Regions from separate parts of the Homo sapiens genome. Here region 2 is linked to region 1. Evidence: fine-mapped expression QTL. A gene starts in region 1. The other region holds a variant in brackets. All regions are shown on one strand. Distances are between the middles of the regions. Region 1 holds the start of STRADB (STE20 related adaptor beta). Region 2 overlaps TRAK2 (trafficking kinesin protein 2).

What was found. PIP is the estimated chance that this variant, and not a neighbour inherited with it, causes the effect.
Region 2: its variant is fine-mapped to the expression of STRADB in whole blood (INTERVAL, PIP above 0.99).

Annotation. Positions count from the first base shown.
Region 1 is chr2:201,445,391-201,457,754 of GRCh38, forward strand. It overlaps STRADB (STE20 related adaptor beta), which reads left to right and starts at 6,350. Exons shown (of 12, transcript NM_018571.6): 1 at 6,350-6,548; 2 at 9,356-9,462. The coding sequence starts at 9,451. TRAK2 (trafficking kinesin protein 2) reads right to left here and starts at 6,068. Exons shown (of 16, transcript NM_015049.3): 1 at 5,960-6,068. RefSeq lists enhancers at 5,423-6,277, 5,681-6,210 and a silencer at 6,241-6,920.
Region 2 is chr2:201,383,727-201,391,726 of GRCh38, forward strand. It overlaps TRAK2 (trafficking kinesin protein 2), which reads right to left. Exons shown (of 16, transcript NM_015049.3): 11 at 6,075-6,154; 12 at 5,574-5,777; 13 at 3,977-4,275; 14 at 2,492-2,758; 15 at 385-490. Among named protein-coding and RNA genes, the nearest start is that of FLACC1, 30 kb to the left of the region's middle. The variant A/C (reference allele first, on the strand shown) is at 4,424.

The sequences.
Region 1 (12,364 bases):
CCTCTGCCCAAAGGGAGGTTAAAGATTTAAGAAGTCTAAGCTCCAAAAGGGACAGCTCTAATGATCTGGATTAGATCTAATATCCAATGAGCTAAGAAATCTAAGAAAATAAGATAGTACCAGATAATAAATATTTGATGAGTGTTACAACAGAATTGTCGGGAGAGAGCTCTTTTCTAGCTGAGGTGGTCTGGCTTCACACAGGATGTAAGATTTAAGTGGACTCCCTAAGGAGGAAAAGATTTGGATAGGTGAGGAGACTATCTGGTAGGAGAAAATAATAATGATAATATCCAACAGCAAGTAGCAGACAGAGCCAGGTTGGCAGCATATACAGACCAATTTGAGTGGGAAGAATTATGGGGAAGGTATTTGGAGATTTAAATTTGACTAGTTCAGATTAAGAAGTCTGAACTTGATCCTGCAGGGAACACATTTCTAAATAGAAGTGACATTTGAGAGAAATAAATGTAAATGCAGGATGCAGGATAAATTTTGGAATGGAGAGATTAGAGACAAAAATAATTAGAAAATTTTATCACATTTACGCATGGATTATTTTAATAAAGGTATAAACTAGGTGAATGGAAATTTTAAGAAGGATTTACGGGTTTGTGAGATAGTGAAAACAGGACCTGTTAACTGATGAGTTGGGGATAGATGAACTTTTTCCTCTCCTAAAAGATAACTACATCTGGCATATGCCTCAATTACTCAGGCTTGAAACCTTACAACTTCTCTTGCCCCTCACTCCCCGAGAATTCTCTTCCCCAGACATTTCCCCTCCCTGCAAACTAGCTTCTCCATCTTCCCCAACCACACAACATATTCCAGCCAAAAGAAAGAACTGCATTTACTAGCTTCCTAGACACACCAGGAAATTCTCAGTCCTGTAACTCTGTCCATGCTATTTCTTCTAATTTTAATGTCCTCTCCCCATTCTACATATCCAAATTCTAGCCATGCTTCCCACACCAGCTCAATGCCACTTTTCCCAACAGGCCTTCCCAGAAACCCCAACTTGAAGGAGGTATTGCCTCCGAACACTTTCTGCTCTTCTCTAAAACAGTTTTTAAAACCTTAGAGCTGTTCCTTATCTCCTCTGATAAACTGCATGCCTCTTACAGCAAACATACTTATTTTTGTATTACTCTGCCCTCTTTTCACAAATAAAGAGCTAGATAAATATCATATAGCAACAGCACAGTGTAAAGCCAAGAACACAGACTCTAAAGACAGACTGAGTTTGAATCTTAACTCTGCTGCCTGTTAGCTATGTGATCTTGGACAAGCTACTTAATCTCTCTGTGCTTCAGTATGTTTACGTTTAAAATGAATAGTAGGTATTTCAAAAGGTTGTCAAAGAATTTGGCTTAAATCTGTGTCAGCACCATAAAAGTGTCTATTAAATACATAAGATCACTTTTTAGAGTGGAAAAATCTGAATATTCTGATAGTTGTATAAAGCTTTATGATCTATACAAGGAAAAGCAAAATGTCAAAATAAAGACAGCCTCTGGGTACAAACAGCTATATACAAATTCTTTCCCTATCTTCTTATGTACACCCTAAGGGTTAGCTGTGCCCTTTATAATGTTATATTAACAGTGGCTCTGTTTTAGTTAGACATTTCAATATTCTGGGAAAACTGTTAGTTCAGCATCCTGTGGCACTAGCTACCTTGGTTACCTTGTCTCCGGTCTTATTACCTTTCATTTATCCTTTACAAGTCTTAGTCTTTCTAAAATGCAAATCTAATGCTTTTCCACTGCTACAAACCACCTCCATCCCATCTTCCTTAGGATAAAGTTTAAGCCCCTTGGCATCTCATGTAAAATCTTCCTAATCCAGCCCCAGCCTAGTCTCCAGTTTCATTTCTCTCAACATTTATCTCTTCACCAAAAAACCTCAATCACCTAACCACAGCTTAAAGGCTTTTTGTATGTCAACTTCTATCACCTAACCACAGCTTAAAGCCTTTTTGTATGTCATTCCTTTTGCCTAGAACACCTATTTGTTAGTTTGCTAGGGGTTCCATAAAAAACTACCACAGACTGGGTGGCTTCAACAACAGAAATTTATTTTTTCACAATACTGGAGTCTGGAAGTCCAAAATCAAGGTGTTGGCAGGTTGGTTTCTCCTGAGGCCTCTCTCCTTGGTCTTCTTGATGAATCCTCACATGGTCTTTCCTTTGTGTGTGCAACTCCTGTGTCTCTTTTTGTGCTCAAATTTCCTTCTTATAAGGAAAACTGTCAGACTGGATTAGAACCCACCCTAACGGCTTCATCTGAACTTAATCACCCCAAAGCCCTGTCTCCAAATACAGTCACATTCTGAGGTTACGGCTGTTAGGGCTTCAATATAATTTTGGGAGGACACAATTCAGCCCATAACAACCCCTTCCCCTTTTCTCTGCCCAGGCTAATTCCCATTTGTTTTCCCAAGACTGGTCCAAGCCTTCCCACTCCAGAGTAACTTCAGTGTTCTTTCTCTGTGCTCCCAAAGTACCTCGGCAAGCTGTGATCCCATTGCTCAACACACTATGTTAATTGTCTCTTTCCTTCTTCAAACTACATTCCTTAAGAGCAAAGACTAAATTCCTAGCATTGGCACAGTGTGTGGCACACAGAAGGTGTTTAATAAAGATTTGATCACTGAAGGAAAATGAAAGAAAGAACAGGAACCTTGAAGTACGACAAGCATGGGTTCAAATCCTGATTCCACAGTTTACTTATCTGTGACTCTGAGCAAGTCATTACATGCTGAACTTCCATTTTAAATAAGGTAGTTGTAAAGACAAATGACTAACTCATAATGAAAGCACCCAGCTGTGGGGCTGGTACACAGTAGGTTCTCAATAAATGTTAGATTACAGATTTTGATCTTGTCTTCTCTGACACTCAGTACTACCATGTAGTAGCTACATGACCTTTGGTATATTTACTATCTTCTCTTTGCTTTAGTTGCCTATCTATAAAAACACCTCAGTGCTATTGTGAGGATAAGTTAATATAGGTAAAACATTATCTAACACATAGTATTACATAAATGTTTCCTATTATTATAAGAACACTGCAGATCTGAACAGATAATGACTCAACTATGAATAATTTAGTTCTTTTAATTACTAAGTCATTTAAATGTGACTATTACCTTTTTGCCTCCTATTTCTTACCAACTAAACAGGATGGTAACTAAAGAGGTTCAAAACTGGTACAGATAATATAATGAGAGCTCACAATAAACATGAAATAAGACATTATCTGTCTCATTCCTTATACTGGTATTTAACATATTTGGGGCACTAAAGCAAAGAAAGTTTCAGTGGAGAATAACACTTCTCTGCTCGTATTTTAATTTTTTTTAGAGATGGCGTCTCACTCTGTCACTCAAGCTGGAGTGCAGTGGTGCCATCATCGCTCAAGGGATCCTTTGATCTCAGCTGGCACTACAGGCACAAACAACCACACCCAGCTATTTTTTATTTTTGGTAGACATGGGGTTTTGCTATGTTGAACAGGCTGGTCTCAAGTCATCCTCCTGCCTCGGGCTCTCAAAGTGCTGAGATTACAGGTGTGAGTCACCACACCCAGCAGGGTCATATTTTTATTTGCAGACTCACAAAACCTGTAAACTGAAAAGAACCTTTTGATAAAAGTCCAGTCTTATAATTTCTTACATAAGTGAGATGGATTTGGAATGGGCTTTTCGGGTCTTACTGAGCAGTTCAGTAAGAAATGGGAATTGTAGGCAGAGAGAATCAGTTTGTTCAAAAGTACTAAAGCAGGGGTTCAGGACTTATTCCAGATGTCCAAGGTGTGTGTTGGAACCAGTCTTAGACAATAACACTAGACAATCCTCTTTAACCACTCAACCTTTAAAGTCTATAATTTCTGAAGTACGTATTAGTTACCTGATCTGTGACTTGGAAGCAAGGCAGATCTAGATTTAAATCTCCCCTTGTTACATAAGCAAGTCTTTGAGCCTCAGATTAGTGTGATAGGTTTGTTAAAGTGATTAAGTGAGCTAAAGTATGAAGAGCTCCCACCTGGGGTGCCTGGCAGATTGCAAATACTAAAATGTTGGTTCTTTTTTTTTTTTTTTTTTTTTGAGACTGAGTTTCACTCTTGTTGCCCAGACTGGAGTGCAATGGCTCGATCTTGGCTCACCGCAACCTCCGCCTCCTGGGTTCAAGCGATTCTCCTGCCTCAGCCTCCTCAGTAGCTGGGACTGCAGGCATGTGCCACCATGCCTGGCTAATTTTTTTTTTTTTTTGAGATGGAGTCTCGCTGTTGCCCAGGCTGGAGTGCAGGGGTGCAATCTTGGCTCACTGCAACCTCTGCCTCCGGGTTCAAGCAATTCTTCTGCCTTAGCCTCCGAGTAGCTGGGACTACAGGCGCGTGCCACCACGCCCGGCTAATTTCTGTATTTTTAGTAGAGACGGGGTTTCACCATATTGGCCAGGCTGGTGTATTTCCTTTCAGTAGAGACGGGTTTCTCCATGTTGGTCAGGCTGTTCTTGAACTCTCCACCTCAGGAGATCTGTCCTCCTTGGCCTCCCAAAGTGCTGGGATTACAGGAGTGAGCCACAGCGCCCGGCCAAATGTTGGTTCTTTCTAACAAACCTCTTCCATCATATGAATAAGTGTGTAAGATAACAAAACACTGTCTTTCACATGGTATGTGCTTGCTAAATGTCTGAGACTTGCTGGACATTACTTAATTTTAAAAATAGAAAACTGGAGCTGGGTGTGGCGGCTCACGTCTGTAATCCCAGCACTTTGGGAGGCCAAAGCGGGTGGATCATGAGGTCAAGAGATCGAGACCATCCTGGCCAACATGGTGAAACCCCATCTCTACTAAAAACACAAAAATTAGCTGGGCGTGGTGGTGCGCGCCTGTAGTCCCAGCTACTCTGCAGGCTGAGGCAGGAGAATCGCTTGAATCCGGGAGGCGGAGGTTGCAGTGAGCCGAGATCACCCCACTGCACTCCAGCCTGGCGACAGAGCGAGACTCTGTCTTAAAAAAAAAAAAGAAAAGAAAGTTGGAATAACTGCTAGGATGATAAAATGTCTTCATCCCTGACCTTTCTCACCTCCAAATGTCCTTCACAATTTGTTTTTAAGTGTCATGTCACCACCATTAACCTGCTATTTGGAGACTACTGTACCTCAGACTTCCAAGTCAACAGCAAAGATCTAAAGGTCGGGAAGATTTACGGAGACCAAGAACTGAAAGTGTTCCTTTTGTTCCTATGGTCCATTCCATCAACTTGATGAATATCCTGTGAAGTTACCTTTTTTTTTTTTTTTTCTGACGTAGAAACAGCAGGTCTAAGCAAAAGGTGCATGAGCAAGAGCAAGTAACATCCCTATTATTATGACGCAGATTTTTTTTTAAGTTGAAATTCAATTTTTGGGCTGCTACTAAAAAGGACATGTGCGAATATCTATTATTTACGCTTCAAACTAAAGTCAGCCGTTTTTCTTTTTCAAGATATGTGGCATCTGGCTCAAAATCAATTGCAAGAAAAGCCCAACTCTATTTGACCCAGAAAGAGCTCTTTCCAATACCCTCTCCTCCCACTTACATCACAGATGGCGACTGAAGCTTAAGGTTTAATGCCCGACCCTAAAGCCACTCATCCTAAAAGACAGGGCTCCAGATGGATGCTGTATGGCAGAGGATAAGGCGCTATGAGAAGCTGCCAAGCCTCAGATGTGCAGCTGGGCTGAATACCGACGCCAGCGCCTAGCGCCCATTACTTTGCACCCACACTTAGGAAACAACCCACGCCTCACCGCGGGACCCGGACCCAGCCCTCCAGCACCCAGCCTCCGGCTCCGACGTCCGCGCGTGACCTCCGGGTACCGGAGGACCTTGGGACGAGGAGGTCCCTCCGCTTTCCGGGGAAGTTGTCAAGGGCAAGTTCGGGTTCTGCGCGGACAGCTTACTCACTGGAGTGGTTCGGCATCCTCTGTCGTCCGCCCGCGCTTCCTCAGGAAGCCCCTAATGCAGCGGCAGCCTGAAAGCAGCAGCCGAAGCTGCTGCCGCTGCTCCCACTGCCAGCAACCGCCCGGGCGTGGCAGGGACAGGCGGGCGACTTCACAACATCATCACTCGGCGACCTCGGTTCTGCGGCGACACCGGGTCAATGGCAGCCCCCACACAATTGGGGAAGCCAAAGGAGAGCCACTCTCCCAGCGGCCTCCACGGCCCCAGCGCAAGACCTGCTGGGAATTGTAGTTTCCTGCCCGCCCCGCCTCAAGCTCGAAGGCCCCGCCTTCTCGCTGCCCAGCCCCGGGGAGGGAGGCGGGGCCGCGACCCCGGCGCGGGTGGGGCGAATGCGTTCCCAGCGGGTAGCCTGGGACTGGTGCAGAGTTCCAAGCCCACGGCCCCGGTCGCGGCCTCGCCGCCCTCCCGCGCCCCGCGCCGGGAGCGGGCCTAGAGCGCTCGCCTCGCCCCTCCGCGAGCAGGGCTCTGGCGCCCGCCCCTGTCCGCACCGCTGGCAGCCTGAAGAGAGTCGCTGGCCGTGGTCGCCGCTAGGGTAAAGACGGGAGGCAGGCCCGGGAAGGGAAGGTGTCGGGGCCGGTGGGGGACGTGTGAGGGAGTGAGCCTTGGTCCGCGCACGCCCGGGAAGCCAGAGGCCAGAACGCGCTAGCCCACCTCCAGCCCGAGCACCGGCGGCTGGCGGGAGCCGTGGCAAGAATGCGGCCCGAGGTGGCGAGCAGCCACTGCGCCAGTGCAGCTCGGGCTCAGCGGGGCCCGGGCCGCGGGTTCGCAGCCCGCCCAGTGGTGCCTGCCGGGTTGGCCGTGCCGGCCGTGCCAGGTGCGCGGGGCCCAGGCCGCCCGGGCGCCCTCTCCCCGCACCCCTCACCTTTGGCCGCGCTCTCGGGCTTGGGGAGTTGCCATATCGAAGACACCCTCAGACCCCAGCTCTATCTGCCGCCTTCTGCAAGTTCGCTGCAAAGTCCCCCATAGCAGGACTAGGAAGGAACCTTTTACAAAATTAAATACTCGAGTGTCGTTTTGTCTTCGGTTTTTCAATTCAACGCTGTGTTTTTCCCTGCTGGGTCTTTGTCAAGTACCTTTTCCCCAAAACTTGATACGGATGTGTAACACGGCGCCTGCTTAGCACGGTGCCTGGCACCCAGTAGGCGCTCAGTAAAGATTTGTTGAACGCATGAGTCACTAAGCTTGGAAAATTCTCCTGAACTGTGCGTCGCTATGATCTTTGTTAAGATTTTATGGGTTCCCAAGATCACTTTGAAAATTACAGTAATTTTAAAGCTCAACAAAGAGTTACATCGGGTCATTTTTGCATTCCCTGTAACAGTGGCCTCTGTTGAATGCCTAAATTAACTCAAAACCCGTGTTCTAGAAGATGCGCCCTTTGGTTTCTACAGAAAGTGTTAATCTTTCAGATCAAAGTCTTCACATGAACCATTCTATTATGGAACAAACTGAAATTACTTATAAAGCTTTATCGTAATTAGCGTTTTGGATACAAGTGTAAGGGACTGCACTGATGTACTTGTGAATACGAAATATAAGTCTCTTAAATATGACTTTTTTTTAAGAAAGGGTTTATATTCATATCTCGTGAAAGAGCATGCCGGAGAAAATTATAATAACAGCAAATCCCCCACCCCCACCCCTTTGCTGGGTGCAGCTGCTGCCTTGACCTCAAAATGTCTTGTAAAATTATCTCTTAATAGTCTGGTGTATCTAAGGCAAAAATCTCTGAGATTAAACCACCCCATAGGGACAACCCTTTTATTACTAACAATTCTTACCAGATTGTGTCTGTTTCTTCTGAGCTTTTCTGAAAAAGAGAAAAAAATAGACAACGTAATGGAGTTTCACATTATTAAGACAAAATCAGTAACAACTTGCTGACATTGAGTGAAAAAAGCAGGATACAAAATCATGATAACCAGAAAATTTGGTTAATCATGACATCCATAACCCTTCTGCTTGTGGGAAGGTCAGCTACAAGTGGCCAGGGTCTTGTCTGCCCTGATTACCAGCGGGTGTCCACAGTGCCTGACCCATGGTAACCACTCATTAAACACTTGTGTAATGATTACTTGGCTGTTAACAGATTAACAGTGTATTGACTATGATGTGTAGTTTCTTCATTTACTTGGATATCTCCTTAGAATAGATCACTCCGGGGAATTTTACTGGGTCAAAAAGTATGAATATTTTCATGGTTATTGAAACATTTGACAACCTGCTTTCCAAATAAACCTTATAGTTTTGTACTGCCATCAGTACATTTGAGTGTACCTTTCAAAGCATAGTTCAAGCTGATACAGTGTTTGCTAATTAGGGGCACTTTGAGATGTAACTCATTTGATTTCATTCACCCTGGAAGGTTGGCAGGGCAGGCATTGCTTTCCTCCTTTTGCAGCACAGCAAACTCCAGTGCTTTAAATTGACGGTAATGAATGGTAGGTGGCTAAATGATCACAGCCTTTCAGGTCCGTCTTCCTCCCAATCTCTACCTTTGGTTCATAGTGAACATCCTGAATAAATTCACCTCTTTCTTTAGCAATAAAATTGGATATTGCTTTATGGTTTTTATGGTTTACAAAATCTTCCCTTTCTCATCCTGCTCACATATTTGTAGATGGGTTCATCAAATTTGGGGAGTTGAAATAATGAAGCACAATTTAGATGAAAGAGATGATGTTGGTTAGATGTAAAGGGATGCTCTGAACCCACAAACTTACAAGATTGCCACCCTTTCTATTAGTAAAGGTCTGGAAACCGTGGATGGTGCTTTTGTATCTCCTTGAATTAATTTCCTAGTCTGTTATTCTGATTCTTTCCCATATTTGCTGGTCAGGGACCCCAAATGATTTAATACGTAATTAATCCAATAAGAAAGGGCTTTGGAAAGTCTCAAAGTTTAGTTGTAATATGTGGAACCATTGAAAATTCTTGGGGTTTATTGTAAGTGACACTGTTTATATCAAAAGTGGGCCAAAAATTGGTTTTCTACATTGCTTTCAAATTTGCTCAGCGTTCTTTAAAAAACAAACAAAAAACAGTATAGAAAAGATAGGGAAGGAGAAATGCAAACATATTGAGGCTTTGGAAATATTCAGGACTTCTTTTTGTTTTCACTCTGCTTCTTGGTTGTGATGTCAGATCACAAATAATGTTCAGTAAAAAATAAATGCTCTTTAAAGATACTTTTCAGGAATGTCTCCTTGTGTCAAGGAGTAGCTGCCTAAATATTGGGTATCAGGGAATAGCTGCCTAAATATTGGATGGGTTTAAGGCAACTGGTTCTTTAAGGAACTTTTATGTGAATCTAAATTATTTTGCTTTTGTTTTTTATAGTAGGATATATCTGCATCTTGAAAGGAAGATAAAACAAAAGCCTTCTTTGGAATAGATGGATTTTTGTCACTTTCTGTGTGAACTAAAGTGATTCAATGTCTCTTTTGGTAAGTTTTTGTAAATATAGATCTGATTTTGTTCTGTCAGAGTAGTTGGATGTTAATGCCAAGCCATAATAAAAGGCATATTCTGATGGGATATTCTTATGCTCTGAGATATTGTTTTGACCTGATTGACTTCTGGACTTGAGAAATGAATTACATTCTCATTGAGTTTTTCTTTCTTTCATAAAGAACTTCTCGTATACTTCAATATGTTCATTATTCTAATCTTTTGTCCCATATCTACTTTTTCTCATAGGTGTTATACTTTGATATGCCACCCACACCAGTTAGCTATGCCTTATCTTTTAAATCTTTCAGAAATTCCTTTTACAAATTTCCATCTGACCAAAAGCAAGCCAAACAGTATTAAAAATAACCCCTTTGACTTAACCGAAATAAAATCATTTGGATCAATGTATATATGAGGTATAGCTGCCAACTGGTTTTCTATTTATATTTAGATCCGTGGTATCTACTTTAGATTAAGTAGCTTGAGGACTTTCATCCTGTTTTATACATAATAATAATATTTGAATAGGGAATACTTATATTAAAATGTGGTTTTTAAAAAAGTAATGAGTAGACCACGTGTAGTGGCTCACACCTGTAATCCCAGCATTTTTAGGGGCCAAGGCTAGAGAATCAGTTGAACCCAGGAGTTCAACACCAGCCTAGGCAACATAGTGAGATCCTGTCTGTATAAAATATTAGCCAGACGTAGTGTCATATGCCTGTAGTCTCAGCTACTCAGAGGGTTAAGGTGGGAGGATCCCTTGAACAAGGGATCAAGGCTGCAGTGAACTGTGATCATGCCATTGCATTCCAGCCTGGGTGATAGAGGGAGATCCTGTCTCAAAAAAAAAAAAGGATGAGTATATTTGTATGATGATTTATAGTTTACAAATACTTTCATATATTTCTTTCATAGTTTCAAATTGTGTAAGTTTAGCAGGGCAGGTGGCATTATCCTCATTTTCAGTTTGTCCAAGATTGCAAAAAGTTGGAGCCAGACTCATACCTGCCAATCTATTCTATCAATTACCAAGGCTGAGAGGCAGAACTATGAAGTTAGAAGACTGGATTGTTAGTAATATGGAAAATACATAACACAGTTACTTACATGTTTAAAGTAAAGCATTACCACTTGAAAGAGAAGCTTTATATATCTGGAAAATACACGGAGGTGAAATGTTTTATTCTGTAAAGGAGGGATCAGCAAGCTTTTCTGTAAAGGCCAGATAGTATTTACAGACCCTTTGGTCTTTGTTACAGCTACTTTTCTGCTGAAATACTAGCATGAAAGCAGCCATAGGCAATATATAAATGAATGAATGAATGTATCTGTGTTCCAGTAAAACTTTACTCACAAAAACAGGTGGTGGGTCAGATTTGGCTCATGGACCATAGTTTGCCGACCCTTACTCTAAAGGATTACTTAAGATTTACAATTTTATATCAATTTTTAAGTTGGAAAAGATGTGAAAGGGCATTCAGTCTATTCCCTTCATTTGATAGGCGAGAATTGTGAGATTCAAAGGGCTGTGTGTTGCCCAGGGCTTTCAAATTTTGGAAAAAGAATATCTTAGCCTATTATTCCATAATTATGGGTTTTGTGAAAAATAATAGAATGTGATAATGGGTGATTTATATCGTTAATGATTGTAACTTTAAATCACATTTTTCTGCAATGGTGAAATATTTTAAATTCTTTGAATCGAAATATTTACTTTTTTTCCTTAAACGAGAAATTTGTGCAGTTGGGATAAAGTTGATACTTTTACTTAAGGATTCCTCCCCATTCAAGTTTTACCCTCTATTTGAGAACTAAGAAATGCTGTTTTCAAAGGAGCAGCATATGTAAAAATATCTTCTTTCAGTTTCTTTGTAAGGTCTAACTACTTTTTACTTGGCTATTATGATAATGGATAAAGAAATTATATTCAAAAATATTCAAAGGGAAAAGGTATGTGGGGTGAAGTTCAGAGGAAACCAGGCACAAGCTTTCAAGAATCTTTTCTCAGTGGAGTTCCATAGTATATGCACAGTTCCCCCAGAGTTGTGACATGTGAAATGTTGTCTACTAGGGAAGCTCATTAGAGACTTGGACTTAAGGTTTTTATTGGGGACTTGTCACGTAGGCGTGCTCTGCTAGCAAGTAACAAAATTCCAGTCTCCCAGAAAAAAAGCCAGGTGTTCAGCATAAACTGTATTATTTGCACAAACAGTTTAGACACAGTGAGCGATTCTTATGAAGGGAACCTCTGCAAAATCCCAGTTCCCAGATACTAGCCAAGGGTCAACCTTATAAGCAGCTATTTTCTAAGAATAGCAGTTTTAGGCCTGCTGTTAATTCTTCTTTTGCACAGTGGTATTAATGGTCGTTGTGAAAAATTCAAGCTAAATGTTGTAAAAATATATAAATACCAAACAATATATAAATGTCCTGCCCAGCTGGTGGATATTTTCAATATGAACAACAGTAATAAGTATCTTCAAAAACTGTTTTATTATAAATGTTATTCACCCTAGGAAGCCATTAGAAACTCTGCAGAGGAATCAGTTGTACAGCTATCTTGACATTGTTAGCGTCTATTCTTCAGGGTGAGTTTTACATAAAACAGTGGGAATATATACCAAATTTTTGTAATAGATTTATAAAGTATACAGACTGTAGGAATTCAAGTTAAAATAATCAGTAATGAAGGCTAACTGGGACAATGACTAGTTTGATTAGTGAGAAATTCTGGCATATCTTAAAAGGAAATTTATATTTAAGTAATTGACTACAAAGTGTTAAGTAGACATAGGTAGACATATCTTAAGAGACTCATTTGATATTGTACTTTAATGTTAATATAAAAATAAGATGCTTGAAATGAAAAATTCTGAAATGGCTGTGGTGGCT
Region 2 (8,000 bases), 64 kb before region 1:
AAGTGGTTTTGGGAACCCTCTGCACTTGCAGGTGTTGTCAGAAGTGAAGGTGAGCTTGTGCAGAGGACTGGCCCTGTAAATCTTGCAGTTTGGCTAACTCTGGGTATATTGCCCCAGCTGCGTTATTTATTAGTTGTCTGCCCTAGGACCAGTCACCTCAACCTTCCATGCCTCAGTTTACTCTACACAATACATACTCACTTGCCCTGCCTACTTTTTTAATAATCAAATGAGAAAATGCAATGTGAAAATATTCTAAAGACACATTATCACAGAACATTAATTAACATTCTGGAAATTAAAATGAAGGTAATTTTAAAAAGAAATTCATGAAAATATAGCTGAGGAAAGAAGTGAGGCCCCAGATTTCCCAGGCACTCTTACCTGGGGGTAACCTGAGTGATGTCAGAGGGATGTAATATTCTACAGGTGGTGAAAGTGAATGTTGAGTTTGTGCACGACAGGCACTTTCCTGGGTTGGCGGTTGCAACTGAAATAGATTTTTAGGGAGCAAATACAAGATTGAAAGTCTAGATTAATAATGTAAAAAGCTCATCATTATTTATTAATAATATAGCATTTATCAAGTACCTTTTGTATTAAAAATCCCCAAATCTGGAAATGAAATAAATATACATAAAGATTGTACTAGTATCAACTGGTTAGTATATAGGTGAATCCAATACTTTAAAACTGTAAAGCAAAAGGCATAAACAAAGATTAGAAATGAGAAAACTGAAAAAATACATTAAAAAAATCAAGATCTAGTATCCAAATGATTCAGCCAAATTTATCTACTCTAGTGGTTCTCAAAGTGTGGTCTGCAGACTCTGTGGGAGTCTACATGTCAAAGCTACTTTCATAGTAATGGTAAGACAGAGGCCTTTTCTTTTTGACTGGGTTGACATTTGCACTGCTGGTGCAAAAGCAATGGAAGGCAAAATTGATGGCTCCTCAGCACAAAACAAGGCAATATCACCAAGTTGTACTAGTCTTCTTTATTGTTATGCACTTGGTATTTTTTAAAAAGCCATATTCACTTAAGAATGTCCTTGAAGTAGCAGTAAAAATTATCTATTAAATTTTGGATCTTGGCCGTTGAGTCTTTTTCCTGTTCTGTGTGATGAAAAATGGGAAGGATGTATTAAGCACTCTTGCTGCACACTGAGATACAGTGGTTATCTAGAGGAAAACACTTGTGCAACTGATTTGAAATTTTCTCATGGAATACCATTTTTACTTGAAAGAACTAACAGACAAACTATAGTAATTCAGACTTGGGTGAAAGACAGACATGTTAAAAATGAATGAAGTGAGCCTGTCCTTCAAGAAAAACAGCTAACAAAATGTGAGCTTTCAAGAAAAAGTGAGTTTTGGAAAACTCGTATCCACCACTGAAAGCATGAACATCCTTGAAGACTTTTCTGATGAGTAGGTGGTGATATTAATATGATTTTAATATTTTTACGTAATAAAATGTGCCAATATTTGGAAAATCTGCATAACTCCATGAACCAATCAACATTTTCTAAATGACCAACGCATGATCTTAAAAATCAAGCATGGCTCAAAGATATATTCAAAATGTAGGATACGACCAATGCATTTAATTTAATTTTTTTTTTTTTTTAGTAGAGACAGGGTTTCACCATGTTGGCCAGGCTGGTCTCAAACTCCTGACCTCAGGTGACTGCCCACCTCGATCTCCCAAAGTGCTGGGATTACAGGTGTGAGCTACCACACCCAGCCTGACCAATGCATTTTAATGTTAACAAAGTAATGAAAAGTTCATTGTTAGGGTTTCAGATCTCACATTGCTACAAACGTTCAAGAAACTACTACTTACCTAGTTTTAGTGTAATATCAAAAAATAGCTACACATATCTGAAAAGACTATTAAAACACTCTTTCCAACTGCATGTTTGTGCCTGGCTGCATTTCCTTCATATTGTTCAACTGAAACAACATATTGCAATAGACTGAAGGCAGATGCTGATAATGAGAATAAAGCTATTTTGTATTAAGTCAAAAATTAGAGACTTGAACAACTGTTTTTCTCACTATGTAAAAAAATTAGCTATTTTTCATTAAACATATTTGTGTAACACAATTATTTTAAATGAGTTAATACATATTTTTATGGTTTTTCAGTTTTGATTTATGATATATTAAATGTCAATAGATATAACCTGCACAGATAGGCTCTCTGGAATTCTCAATGATTTTTTAGAGTATAAAGAGTTTCTGAGCCCAAAAGGTTTGTGAACCACTGACTTGAATTCATCCAGCTCTCTACCCAATCTACTAACGCAGGCTGGCTAAGATAAAGTGGAGAGAATTAGGAATGCCACTAATGCTATAGATTTTCATTATCTGATATGCAAGATTAAGTACCCTCCAGTGAGCAGAGGTAGCCAGCTGACTGTCTAGTAAGTCAGAATGCAAAGTACTTCTGGTTATTATACCATATTCAACCAGACACTCTTCTCACCTGTAACTGGTCCACCTGCTGAAGTAATGGGTGGCAGGAAGATCCCTGTTACTGGCTTGGATGTTGAAAGTTTCTCTTCCACTTCAAGAGGTTGCTGAACCTGAAAAGTAATACCCTCCTCTTCATCCTCTTCTAAATCTGAGATGTGATAAATAGCATCCCCGGGCAACTGGGTAAAGCCTTTAGTAATGACACCTGGTCGTGGATCAAGGATGGTTCCCAAGTTTGGTTGAGCAAGCTGCTGCCAGTGATACAGAGTTTGTGATCCTGAATATGCAAAACAAAGGAAGGGGAAAGGCATGTTTTACATTTCCCACAAATCTTAAAACACAAGCTAAAATTATATGTGTAATAACAATAATGACAGCAATAAAACTATTTATTTGGTGTTAATAATTTGGTAAAAGCTGCAAATTAAAGTTTTCAGTGGAAGATGACAAGATGTCAAAGGTATGAGTCATAATCTGTTTTAATAGTTAAGGAGGACACCTAAAGGGGTGAAAAAAAACCCAAGGAGACACCCTTAATAGGAAAGGAGCTTAGCTGCTGAGGCAGTGATGGAAGATACGTGCCTAAGAGGTGGGCTGTATTTTCCCAGGTGACAAAAAAGTCAATACTTCTCTGGCCTGGAACTATGCCTATGAAGGTGAAAGTCAAAAGCCAGGCTCCCAGGGAGAATAGGAAAATGAAGAAGATAATGAAAAGGAGGATATGTTCTACTGGTTCCAGGCTACAGAACCCTGGTGAATGATCATCCCAAGTAATTGCACCAGATGCAATGTCTAATTATGTCACTGTAGTCATTTCATCCTAAAAATGGCAACTCCAACAAATATCTGCACTGATCATTAATGAATACAACTAAGTTATAAAATCTTTGAGTTTGAGGGGTCTTTATAAGTTACACACTCAAAATTTCATTTAATGCAGAACTCTTTTAGGATAATATCAGAGAATCATTCAATGATTGTCATTGTTCCAGAAAATGAAGGAATTTATTTTGAATTCAAGCTCTTTCTTAGGAGAGTATAGAAACTAAACTGAAAAAAGGAAAAATACAGGTACACACACACCTCTAAGTCAATTATACTTTTGGGTAAAAAACTCTTTTGAAAAGGAAGGTGGAGATGAATTATTATCTCTAGATCATTATCATTTATCATATCTTATTCATCTAACCATGGAAACTGCTGTCAATGATATTCCTTAGCAAAGGACAGAAAAAGATTACTCCTCTTCCCTGCTCACGTTTATATTAAAAAACATCAGAAGAGAACTGCTGGCTGATGATTCAGAGAATGCAACTCTCTTCATTCATTAATTTTCCACAAAGTACTACAGTCTTGCCACCCAAACAGCAAGATTAAGGGATAAAAAGATCATCTGCACATAATGTTCCTATAATTAAGACACAAATCTCAATTCCAGGGAAAGGAACTTCCAGTAAGTCACATGGCTTAGTAAGGGCCCTTACTGATTTATTACCTTCAAGGGGCTTGACAATTTGTAATTTTTCTGGCATAAAACCTCGAAGGCAACTGGCACTGCTGAGGTCTGTGATCTCTGACTGGGTGGTGCAGAGAGAGGCAAGGCTCTCTGTCGGGGTGACACAGCCACTAACTCCTTCCTTCTGGTCTGCCAGAACCTGGATCTTCCGCTGCCATTCTTCAGCAAAGAACTGCTTCTCACTTAAATAGTTTTGTCGACGCAAGCTAAGGCGATGCAGTGCTGTAGCCAAATCACTATCTCCTGAGGGTCCTGGTTGGCCCATCTTCTGGGAGCTCCTATAGGAAAATCGCGTTCACTGATTAGATCTTGAGGATCATCAGCATGACCCAGACCTCTCCTTTCTATAATGGTAAGCATTCAAGAGACTGATATTAAAAACATGATATTTTCCTAGATACCTGGAATATAGAAGTAATAACAACA[A/C]ACCAAAATCACCAACAACACTATATATCATTTTTACAGATCATTGCAAATGACTTGAAAGGCAAGATAATACTTTATTGATATTCTGTGTTTTCTGAATTTTCTATTTCATTTAATTTATGAAACTACACATTCAACCATCTATAAATTCATATTAGGTGGTCACGAAAGTAAATATTATATTTTGCTGAATCTGTATCATAGATTGCAAGAGGTACCATTATTTTATGTATCATAAAGAAGGAAAAAAACGCTACGGATTAAACTAAGGCATACTATCAGTTACAAAACATAATAATTTAAAAAATATTAAAATATGAAAAAAATTTGCTTTGGGTCACAGAATCACCCATCAACACTGCAGAACATTTAAAAGGAAACAACAAAATTTGTATATAATACTGCATTTTTATAGTTGTCTGATGCCCATTTTTTGACTTCAACACTTTTGAAACTGGAAGCTATCTTATAATTGATATCAAATGGAAGATCAGCAAGCTGAGTTGTGGGTACTCTGGGATACTGGGGTATAAATCCACATAAATGTGTTTCAGATCTTCTCCTAAGATAATTGTGTGACAGTGAGGCAGTAGGACACAAAGCTGCTGTGGGTGCAGAACACTGCCCAGGACAGACCAGGCAATGCAACTGAAACCTAGTGTGATGAATTTTTATGTTAGGAAACATTTCCCTTTGGTGCCAAACATCTATCTTGCAAAGCTTTCAGCTCACTTTTCAGTAAAGTTGTTTACCTTCTAGTTATATAGAATTCAATGTACTGAATTAATAAAAGGAATGAAAAAAAAATCCAAGTTTAAATAAACAGAAAATCGACAGCACCTCGATGGTCCTCAAGATGTATTCAAACTTACATTTATCCTAAAAATCACCAAAGCGGTTGAGATTATGAGCACGGATTATGAGAAGGTGTCATCCGATGTATTCATGCTAGTGACCAAACAGATTCAAAAAAATTTGACTTTGGCATGATCTGTCTCATGAATAATGATACAAGGCATCATAAGTGAAGGAAAACTGACAGTTCCAGAACCTTCTTGGGACAGTAGAGTAATGCTGGAATGTGCGTATGTGAATCTGGTGCGGCAATGTGAAAAGAAATGCAGAATCACTGTTATCATCGGATTCCTACCCTGCAACCTCCTCTGAGCTGCTCCCCTGGTTCAGGAGTGATTTGTCCTCTGTTTGCTGAAGACCAGACTCAAAAGGTTTTGCTGTCATGATGACACTTGAACGGTTGGAGCCTGGAATGGGTAACAGAGCTGGGAATGAGATAGAGCGGCCCCGTGTGTCATTGGCAATCCTGACGGTATCAAATACCCGCTTCTGTTGGGCTCTGTCAAAAAAGGAAGTGTTCGTTATTATCACTGCTAGCCACTAAAGCATCTAGAGAAGAGAATGTATGTGCAGTCCATCAGAAATAAAGCCACCCTGAGGAGCTATTTAGGAGAAATCATCAGAAAATAAGCTTTCAAACAAGAGAACTCTCTCACAAAAAAAGGACACTGTGAGGAAAACACTGAATAGTAAGCAAATTACTACTGAATCTCGTAATACTTGCCACTTTGGATTGTGGCTTCTTTTTAATTTCTATTCCAATGATTGAGTAACAACACATGTGACCTGTACTTACTTTTGTTTAAAGAGAGAAGATTCCTCATCCAAACTCAGCTTTTTACGCATAGTCCCCTCAATCTCAGCTGCCAAAGATTCCTAAGAAAAAGAGTTTGAGATTTCTAAAGTGATTGTTGCCCTTAAATTAACAGAGTCTCTACAATCCTATACTTTTGGTTTTATAATAAAATACAAGGAAATAGTCAAGGCTAACATTCAGGGGAAAAAAGACATTCTGGAAATATAACTTTTAAATAAGAACCAACTACCTTTTCATAATCTTTTCAAATAGGAAAGTAGTGGAAAAAGCTGATATGATAAATAGAAAATATATGTGCAGGCACACAAAAACAAAAGGTCTGAAAGGCCATAAACCCAGTGTTGACAGTGATGCTGTGGAGGGTGAGATTTAATGGTATTTAACAATTTTTTTTTTGCTTTTCTGTAATTTCTAGCTTTTCTATAATAATCATGTATAGCTGGCCGGGTGCGGTGGCTCACACCTGTAATCCCAGCACTTTGGGAGGCCAAGGTGGGTGGATCACGAGGTCAGGAGATCGAGACCATCCTGGCTAACATGGTGAAACCCTGTCTCTACTAAAAATACAAAAAAATACAAAAAAAAAAAAAAAATTAGCCGGGTGTGCTGGCGGGCGCCTGTAGTCCCAGCTACTCGGGAGGCTGAGGCAGGAGAATGACGTGAACCCGGGAGGCAGAGCTTTCAGTGAGCTGAGATCGCACCACTGCACTCCAGTCTGGGTGACAGAGCGAGACTCCGTCTCAAAAAAAAAAAAAAAAAAGTAAAAACAAAAATACCAACAAAAAACAATGTATAGCTTTTATAATATTAAAAAATCACTTAAAAAAAAGAACAAGCAAGCTTCCTCTTCCCCCCAGTCAGGGATGAGGACTAAATCTAGTGTTGACAGTGATTCTGTGGAGGGTGGAATTTAATGGTATTTAACGATTGCTTTTTGCTTTTCTGTAATTTCCAACTTTTCTGTAATAAACATGCATAGCTTTTATAACATTAAAAATCATTTAAAAAAAAAGCAAGCTTCCTCTTCCTCTGGTCAGGGGTGAGGACTCAACTAATATGGGTGACATGCTCAGTGGGACTCAGCTGAGGATGACTGGAATTGGAGGCAATGGTGTGAACTCATGATTATATATATTTATATATATATGGATGAAAACATATATATACACATATATAGTATAGGTATAGGTATGAAATACATATATTTCCTAGTCCTACCTGCTGAGAGGGACTAGAAGCCACAATACTCTAGTAGCAATCAATGGGCACACCTAACACCCAGATCTTGGATTCGAAATACAATTCTTCAATAAAAGTAACCAGAGCTCTTTGGAGAAATGGCTGATTCCAGGGCTGAGACAAAAAGTACAAGATCAGCTTAAAGGAGATCCTACTGATCATATCTAGGACAATCTGAATATCCTACATACAGATTGAATATACAACAATAGCTTGTAATCTATTGAATAAAATAGAAATCCATGAGTCCATGACATACCTAAGTGAACAAATGAACAAATAAATGGGACAGGAATGCACTAACTTACAAAAGAAAAATGCCAATTAATAAATGTTGAAAAATGATGAAATTTGAAAATCACCATTTGGCAGTCATCACTGTAATAACTCTGCCAGATAAGAACCATCAATGGGTGCTAAAACTAGTGGGTAATAGTTTGATGAGGAACAGGATACTTAGTCTCAAAGTATCTCTCATAAAATGTTTACTTTGATCACTTGGTTGGGGTAGTATCTGCCGATTTTCATCACTACACGGTGAATTAGTAGTGTTAATTTAATTAACTGTTAATTACCGTTAACTTTACAGTGGAAAAAACCAGCAGATTACCTTAACCAAGAGATCAAAGTTAATTAATACCACCTGCAATGGGCTAAACAGACATT